2 separate regions of the Homo sapiens genome follow, and region 1 is linked to region 2. The links come from fine-mapping of genetic effects on gene expression. A gene starts in region 2. The other region holds a variant in brackets. All regions are shown on one strand. Distances are from middle to middle. Region 1 overlaps NHERF2 (NHERF family PDZ scaffold protein 2). Region 2 holds the start of NDUFB10 (NADH:ubiquinone oxidoreductase subunit B10).

The links. PIP is the estimated chance that this variant, and not a neighbour inherited with it, causes the effect.
Region 1: its variant is the best candidate, but not a certain one, in a credible set for the expression of NDUFB10 in whole blood (INTERVAL, PIP 0.72).

The regions. Positions count from the first base shown.
Region 1 is chr16:2,028,946-2,033,436 of GRCh38, forward strand. It overlaps NHERF2 (NHERF family PDZ scaffold protein 2), which reads left to right. Exons shown (of 7, transcript NM_001130012.3): 2 at 637-837. Among named protein-coding and RNA genes, the nearest start is that of NHERF2, 4.3 kb to the left of the region's middle. RefSeq lists an enhancer at 3,614-4,198. The variant G/C (reference allele first, on the strand shown) is at 2,501.
Region 2 is chr16:1,956,908-1,961,144 of GRCh38, forward strand. NDUFB10 (NADH:ubiquinone oxidoreductase subunit B10) reads left to right here and starts at 2,631. Exons shown (of 4, transcript NM_004548.3): 1 at 2,631-2,847. The coding sequence starts at 2,718. RefSeq lists an enhancer at 847-1,688 and silencers at 2,411-2,720, 3,151-3,260.

The sequences.
Region 1 (4,491 bases), 72 kb after region 2:
GCTTCCCTGGCTGTGTGTGGGTGCCCGAGCCAGGAGCCCAGCCCTTCCCCTCTCTGCAGATCCAGAGGGAATGGGCCCATGGCCATGGCCTGGAGGTAGATATAAGGCCTAGGGTCAGGAGTTTAGACTCCCACACTGCACGGCAGAGAATGACGGGAATGGGCACAGACACACTCAAACTGGGGCCCAGGGAGACACACCTCTCCTTCAAACCTGGACGGAGACACAGACTTTGAAACAGATGGATGCATGCGCGCACAGGGACAGGCAGACTGAAAACCTGAAGGTCCACTGTGCACCATTTTTGTCACTTCCAGACAGGACTTACCCAGCGGCCCTATCCTGCAGCCCCTTCCCAGCCCCGCCTGGAGAAGACCCTGGGCTAAGGGCAAGGCTCTGGGAGCACCCTGAAGCCCTCACAGCCTGGGCCTCAGTGTCCGGAGCCTGAGTGCAGAGGGAGGGAGCCGCTGGAGTCCGGGGGTGGGGGGCGGGGCCGGCAGGCCTCTTGGTGCAGCCACCCGCCCATGCAGACCAGCCGCCTGTCCGCACGCCTGGGCCAGCCCAGAGTGGTGCCACTGCCCATGTGCTGCCCGGAATGTGGGCCACTGACCCGCTCCTATCGCCCATTCGCCCCAGGTGGTGCAAAGGATCAAGGCTGTGGAGGGGCAGACTCGGCTGCTGGTGGTGGACCAGGAGACAGATGAGGAGCTCCGCCGGCGGCAGCTGACCTGTACCGAGGAGATGGCCCAGCGAGGGCTCCCACCCGCCCACGACCCCTGGGAGCCGAAGCCAGACTGGGCACACACCGGCAGCCACAGCTCCGAAGCTGGCAAGAAGGTATGGCGGGCTTGGCCCACAGGGACCACCCTAGCCTCTCCCAGAGGCTCTCTCAGCTTTTGACGACGATCTTTGCCTTTGGTCACCTCCAGAAGTCTTGGTCTCTTCTGCCTTTTGGGGCTCCTTTTCTGCCCCAGGGACCATCTTGTTGGCCACTGGGGGCCACTGTTTCTACCCTCAGCCTGTGTTTTAAACTGGGTAGGGTCAGGGCAGCCTGGCCTGTTCCTCTTCTCCAGGATGCTCCAGAGCCACTTGCCCTATCGAGGGGTCACTCTGACAAGCTGCCGCCTCCCCAGCCCCCAGCCTCGTGGCTGAGGAACCCTGGGAAGAGGCATTCCAGGTCTGCGTGTGCGCAGCTCTGTGCCTGTGCTGGGTGTCATCCGTGGCTCTGTCTTTGTCTCTGTTGAAGGCGCCTGCATGCTGGGAAGGCCTGGGAGAGGGCCGGCCTTCTCCACAGGCAGCGCCGTGGTTGGGGAAGCCTAGGAGGCCACTCTGCCAGGCCTGGCGTAGGTGGGGCTGGGAGCATGGGAGTGGAGTTGGGGGTCCAGGAGGCTCCAGGGTGAGCCCACTCCTCCCCCTAGATACAAGGGAGGGCCCTGGGACCCTGTCTGCTGTTCCTCCTGGACTCCTGCTGGGTAGTACTTCCTCCTTCCCCTGCCCTTGCTCCCAGCCAGGAGACCCAGAAAAGTACAGGGGCGGCCTGCTCCACCTCCTGCTAGGTGGCCGACTGGGAGGGGCGGCCTGGCAGGCCTTGGGGACCAGGAGGAACAGCCTGAAGCTGTCTGTCTTATCTTCCTGGAGGCCCTGATGGCATTATCTCCATGTTCTCTCCTACCTTTTTTTTTTTTTTTTTTTCATTTTCAAAGAGAACCCTGGCCGGGTGCGGTGGCTCACGCCTGTAATCCCAACACTTCGGGAGGCTGAGATGGGTGGATCACCTGAGGTCAGGAATTTTGAGACCAGCTTGACTAATGTGGTGAAACCCCCGTCTCTACTAAAAATACAAAAATCAGTTGGGCATGGTGGGGCACGCCTATAGTCCCAGCTACTTGGGAGGCTGAGGCAGGAGAGTCGCTTGAACCCGGCAGGCGGAGGTTTCAGTGAGCCGAGATCCCGCCATAGCACTCCAGCCTAGGCGACAGAGTGAGACTGTCTCAAAAAAAAACAAAAAAAGGAAAAGAAAGAAATCCCTTCAGGGGATATGAGTCCAGGGGTTGGCCAGACCCCACTGTGAGAACCGCGCTTGGGGCAGGGGTGTGGGATCTGGAGTTCTGAGGGTGCAGGGGATATACACATTCACTTTCTCCCTTTCCCAGACGTCACTGCTGAAGCTGGCTGCCCCTAGGAGCTGAGCCCGGGGGGAGCGGCTTGGCAGGGAGACAGCATTCCCTGTGGGGAGCCCAGCCTGGGCGCAGGCCTGCCCGTGGGACCTGTGGGACCCGTTTTGTTCCTGGGGCTTGAGGGCGGGCCACAGTGGTGCTCAGGGCCAAGGTGCCCAGCCCAGGGCTGGTGGGGGGGCTGGCCTTGCAGGGGGGCTGGCTGGTCCTAAGCCCCTGTCTCCAGGCTGAGGGTTGGGGCCTCCCTCTTTCCCAGCCACCTTCCCTCCCCCAGGAGGAAGCTCCCCCTCTGCCTCAGGCGTTTGTCCATTGATTTGGACACAAAC[G/C]CATGGTTCACCTTCCTGTGGAAAAATCCGGCCCTCGGACTTTATCTGGAGGGTGCAGTGGCCCAGGCACCTTGCCTTGGGTGGGACCTTCCCCCTCTGCTATTTCAGGCTCTGGGGGCTGCAGGAAGCCCTAGGAGGGGCTTCCTCTGGGTGTATTTTTAGAGGAACAAAGGGTGGCCTGAGTGGCAGGTCCCTTTGTGCATGAGTCTGGCTGGGGACAGGGGCTCCAGGAGGTCAGGGGGCACCCAAGGAACAGGGTCTCCCCTTCTCTCTTCTGGCATCAAGACCTGAGGTTTCTTTTTCTTTTTCTTTCTTGGCTCACTACAACCTCCGCTGTCTGGGTTCAAGCGATTCTCTTGCCTCACCCTCCCCAGTAGCTGGGATTACAGGCGCGCACCACCACACCTGACTAATTTTTGTGTTTTTAGTAGAGACGGGGTTTCACCATGTTGCTCAAGCTGGTCTCGAACTCCTGATCTCAGGTGATCTGCCCTCCTCGACCTCCCAAAGTTCTGGGATTACAGGTGTGAGCCACTGTACCCGGCCCCTGAGGTCTGAGGTTTCATTTCTTTCTTTCTTTTTTTTTTTTTTTGAGACGGAGTTTCACTCTGTCGCCCAGGCTGGAGTGCTGTGGTGCGATCTCGGCTCACTGCAAGCTCCGCCTCCTGGGTTCAAGCAATTCTTATGTCTCAGCCTGCTGAGTAGCTGGGATTACAGGCGTGTACCACCACACCTGGCTAATTTTTGTGTTTTTGGTAGAGACAGGGTTTCACCGTGTTGGCCAGGCTGGTCTCAAACTCTTGGGCTCAAGTGATCCGCCTGCCTCAGCCTCCCAAAGTGCTGGGATTACAGGTGTGAGCCCCTGCGCCTGGCTCAGGACCTGAGGTTTCTTCACCTGAGCTCCCAGCATGGGCAGGAAGAGGTGGGCCTCACCTGACCTCCACAGAGCAGGCTCAGATCCTGCCCTTCTCAGCCTGGGTTCAGGGCATGCCTCAGATGGTCAGGGAGCCCAGGAGGGCAAAGCTTACCTTGCGGGGATGGCTCCAGTGGGGGCACTGGTGGCAGAGAGGCAGAGCTCTGGAAGGGATGTGTGTAGTTTGTCTTTGGTGAAGGATGGAGAGGGCCCAACTTTGGGTGCCCCCTGGGAGCTAAGGGTGGCTCTCAGTGTCCTCTGTCCTGGCTGGGGATAGGGGAGGTGGGCAGGGGAGGACACTGATGTGGTTGGCCCCTCCTTTTGGGGGCCGTGAAGGCCTAGTTAGTGATGACTCAGCCCTGGGCCACACCAGGCTGGGGGTGGCCGCAGCTGCAGTGCAGCTGATCCTAGTAGTGACGACAGGGGACAGCCCCCAAACAGAGACGGGGTGGCCAGCGGTGCCAGGCCCTGGAGGTGGTGGCAGACCCTGAGCCCTCTGCCCCCTGCCCCTAGCCCATGTCTCCACCCCCATCTGGAGGGCCTTGGGGGCTAAGAGCAGGTGTGAGGGGTGACAGTTCTGCGGGAGGCGGCTGTGTGGTTGGGGCGCGGTGCCTGCGGGGGCTTCCGGGCTTCCCTGGCTCTTGCTCCTCTGGAGCCTCAACAGGACCGTCCTGTGTTCTGGGGCCGGGACTCCTCCCTGTCCCCTCAGCCCTGGGTCCTGGGGCAGGGCAGGGCCTTCCAGCAGCTTCCTTCCTTCCTTTCTTGGGACGGAAGCCTAGCTGGGTGGGGGGCGCCAGGCTGGAGCCTTCGCAGGGGAGCGGGCTCAGTCATCACCCTGCTCCCCAGAGTGACTCAGCCCCCACGTCCCCACCCATCCCCGGGGAGCCAGGGCCGCAGAGGGAGGTAGATAAGTGGGGTGGCAGCCTGGGTCGGCCAGAGAGTTCAGGCCACCCCGGCCGGACGCCTGCCACTTGCTGTCACTGTGCCGCTGTCATGGCACGCTCCGGGAGTGCCACGCCACCTGCCCGGGCTCCGGGAGCCCCTCCACGGAGCCCACCCCAGAGGCTGGTACAGGTCA
Region 2 (4,237 bases):
CTAGGCTACTAAAATGTCAAGATTGTTTGGGTCTCATGGTTCATATTTCTTTCCAAGACTTTGGCCAGGCACAGTGGCTCATGTCTGTAATCTCAGAACTTTGGGAGGCCGAGGTGGGCAGATCACGTAAGGTCAGGAGTTTGAGACCAGAAACATGGTGAAACCCTGTCTCTACTAAAAATACAAAAAATTAGCCGGGCGTAGTGGCAGACACCTGTAGTCTCAGCTACTCAGGAGGCTGAGACAGGAGAATCACTTGAAACTGGGAGGAGGAGGAGGTTGCAGTGAGCCGAGATTACGCGCTGCACTCCAGCCTGGGCAACAGAGCGAGAGAACTGTCTCAAAAAAAAAAAAACAAAAACAAAAACAAAAAAAGAAAAAAAAGTTCATAATGTGAAGACCGAACGTTTCTGTGACCGTAGATCCTGTTGTGTCCGGAATTGGTGAGTTCTTGGTCTCACTGACTTCAAGAATGAAGCCACGGACCCTCGCGGTGAGTGTTGCAGTTCCTAAAGGCGGGGTGTCCGGAGTTTGCTCGTTCTGATGTTCCGATGTGTTCGGAGTTTCTTCCTTCTGGTAGGTTCGCGCTCTCGCTAGCTCAGGAATGAAGCTACAGACCTTCGCGGTGTTACAGCTCTTAAGGCGCCGCGCGTCTGGAGTTGTTCATCCTGCCAGTGGGCTCGTAATCTCACTGGCTTCAGGAGTGAAGCTGCAAATCTTCGCGGTTGAGTGTTACAGCTCATAAAGGCACTGTGACCCCAAAGAGTGAGCAGCAGCAAGACTTACTGGAAAGAGAGAAAGAACAAAGCTTCCACACTGTGGAAGGGGACCTGAGTGAGTTACCACTGCTGGCTCCCGCAGCCTGCTTTTATTCTCTTATCTGGCCCCACCCACATCCTGCTGATTGGTAGAGTCCAGTGGTCTGTTTTGACAGGGCGCTGATTGGTGCGTTTACAATCCCTGAGCTAGACACAAAGCTTCTCCACATCCTCACCAGATTAGCTAGATACAGAGTGTCCACACAAAGGTTCTCCAAGTCCCCACCAGAGTAGCTAGATACAAAGTGTCGATTGGTGCATTCACAAACCCTGAGCTAGACACAGAGTGCTGATTGGTGTGTTTACAAACCTTGTGCTAGATACAGAGTGCCGATTGGTGTATTTACAATCCCTGAGCTAGACATAAAGGTTCTCCACGTCTCCACCAGACTCAGGAGCCCAGCTGGCTTCACCCGGTGGATCCCGCACGGGGGCTGCAGGTGGAGCTGCCTGCCAGTCCCGCGCCGTACGCCCGCACTCCTCAGCCCTTGGGTGGTTGATGGGATTGGGCGCCCTGGAGCAGGGGGCGGCGCTCGTCGGGGAGGTTCGGGCCGCACAGGAGCCCACGGAGTGGGGGAGGCTCAGGCATGGCGGGCTGTAGGTCCCGAGCCCTGCCCCGCGGGGAGGCAGCTAAGGCCTGGCGAGAGAAATCGAGCGCAGCGCCGGTGGGCCGGCCTGCTGGGGGACCCAGCACACCCTCCGCAGCCGCTGGCCCGGGTGCTAAGCCCCTCATTGCCCAGGGCCGGCAGGGCCGGCCAGGCTCTCCGAGTGCGGGGCCCGCCGAGCCCACACCCACCTGGAATTCGCGCTGGCCCGCAAAGCACCGCGCGCAGCCCCGGTTCCCGCCTGCGCCTCTCCCTCCACACCTCCCCGCAAGCTGAGGGAGCCCGCTCTGGCCTTGGCCAGCCCAGAAAGGGGCTCCTCAAGTGCCGCCAAAGTGGGAGCCCAGGCAGAGGAGGCGCCGAGAGCGAGCGAGGGCTCTGAGGACTGCCAGCACGCTGTCACCTCTCACTGTTTGTCTGTAGGGTTGATGGTTCTGTGTCGCTGGCCTCAACCTCAGGACAGGACATGACCAGTGTCCCCCCTGGATAGCAGCCAGGGGCCGTGCCAGGTGTGGAGACTGAAGATGTGGCCAGCAGGACCCTGCTCAGTGGAGCTGCCTAGAAGCACCAGAGTGCCCCAGGGCCAGGATGGAACCATCAAAGCCGGCCAGAGGGCCCTGTGCCCAGGGTAGGTGCCTTCTCCCTATGAGCCGCCTAAGGGCAAGCCCTGCCTCCTGGTCTGCTCCCTGCCCTCCCCCAGACAGGCTCCCAAGTTAACTGGCACCAGCCAGTCCATGAGGGGCCCTTGTAGAGAGCGGGGCCCAGAGAAGTCTGTAGGGACTAGGCAATCCAGGAAAGCTTCCTGGAGGAGTAGGGTGTTTGGAATCGCGTGCTATTTGTTCACTTTGTCGTGTGCGCTCTAACGGCCTGTGTTCTCCATCACAGTTTATCTTATTCCCTGCTGCACTCAGCACAGTGCCTGGCGCGCAGTGGGAACCGAATGACCCCCTCCTATTCCTTATGTCAGTTGCCTTTTGTCTGTTTCTTTCATCGTAAGCAGGAATCTGTCCGGTTCGCGGCTGCTTCCCAGGCGCCCAGACCAGCGACCAGCACCGCGTAGGCGCTCGGCACAGACCGAGAACGGAGGCCCCACGCGGGGGCGCCCTGCGGCGAGGCGGGTCCCGGCCGCGCCCGGCGGAGCCGGGGAACTACAAGTCCCATGGTGCATCGCGGCGCCAGCGCGCAGACGCAGCCGCCCTCGGCGTCCTCTGTAGCGGGCGACCTAGGCCGCGGGACCCGGACGGAGGTAGAGGCCAGGGCAGCGCGTCCGGGAGCGGAGTCCGCGCCCGCCGCCGCCATGCCGGACAGCTGGGACAAGGATGTGTACCCTGAGCCCCCGCGCCGCACGCCGGTGCAGCCCAATCCCATCGTCTACATGATGAAAGCGTTCGACCTCATCGTGGACCGACCCGTGACCCTCGTGAGAGGTACGAAGCCCCAGCCCGGGGCTCCCTCGCCGGCCTCTGGGGACCCCTGGATCCCACACCCTGCCTGGATCCTCCAATGCCTCCGGGGTCCCGTCTGCCTGAGACCGCCCCCCGCTGCACCCCGGGGACAACTCCCCACCCCCGGAGACCTCCGAGCTCCGTCGCCTCCTTTGGCCTCCCACTGCACCCCGGACCTCACCTCCCAGGATCCCTTACTCTCCCCTGCACCCCGGGATGCCCCGCTTCTTCCCAGGACTCTTCCCTCCCTGCCGCACCCAGCGCCCACTGCCCCAGGACCCCGCACTGCTCTCCGCCCCCCGCCGCCCCGGGCACCCCTCCACTGCACCGCTGGCCTCAGGCCTCTCTCAAATGTCTCTCTGCCGGATGACCAAGTGTCGGGGTGATGGCCGAGATGCCCAAATTCAGCATCTCTGGAACGAACCGGGAAAATGCCCAGTTCAGTTTTTGTTGTTTTTTTTTTTCCTGAGACAGTCTCACTCTGTTGCCCAGGCTGGAGTGCAGTGGCGCGATCTCGGCTCACTGCAACCTCTGCCCCACCCCGGGTTCAAGCGATTCTCCTGCCTCAGCCTCCCCAGTACTAGGATTACAGGCGCACCACCACCACGCCCAGCTAATTTTTATATTTTTAGTAGACACGGGGTTTCACCATGTTGGCCAGGCTGGTCTCGAACTCCTGACCTCAGGTGATCCTCCCACCTTGGCCCCCAGGTGCTGGGATTACAGGCCTGAGCCACCGTGTCCAGCCTGGTTCAGTTCTTTTTGAACACTTGGGGTGCATAGCATGCTCTGGTGGTTCTTCCGTAAGAGGGTGAAGTCTCCAAATCAAACCCCCAAAGATCTGGAAACCGTGCAACAGCGGACCCAGCTCCCTCTCTTTTGTAGCAGTTGTAGAGCATGTCTGTCCTATGTGTCTGGATGTTCGAGCTCTCCTTTTAGCTCGTTCATTTCCCAGTGAGGAAGCTGAGGCCGTAAGGTGGTAAGTTCTGCTTGCTGGAGGCTCCCTGTTGGAGCCTCTTTGCGCACCCAGCAGGGTCCCTGTGCAGCTGGGGGAGGTGCACTGGCAGAGCTGCGTCCCAGTCCTTGCCATCTGTGAGAAGCAGCTGCCTGTAGGCTTGTGTGGGGGACAGAGTAAGGTAATGCATGTGGAACTCTGAGGATGATGCCTGGTACTCGGGAGCTCTCCATCAGCTGTAGCCTAGGCCTTCACAGGCCTGCCTGGCTGGCCACATCCCTTAGAGAGACGAATTGCTGTTTTCTAAACGCTGGAACACTCAGGAAGTTCTCCTCTCTCCCCTCCAAAGGGCTTATGAGAAATAAGAAAGCTAAAAGCCTGTCCAAACCGATGAGGCATTTGAGTCTGTGGCTTTGT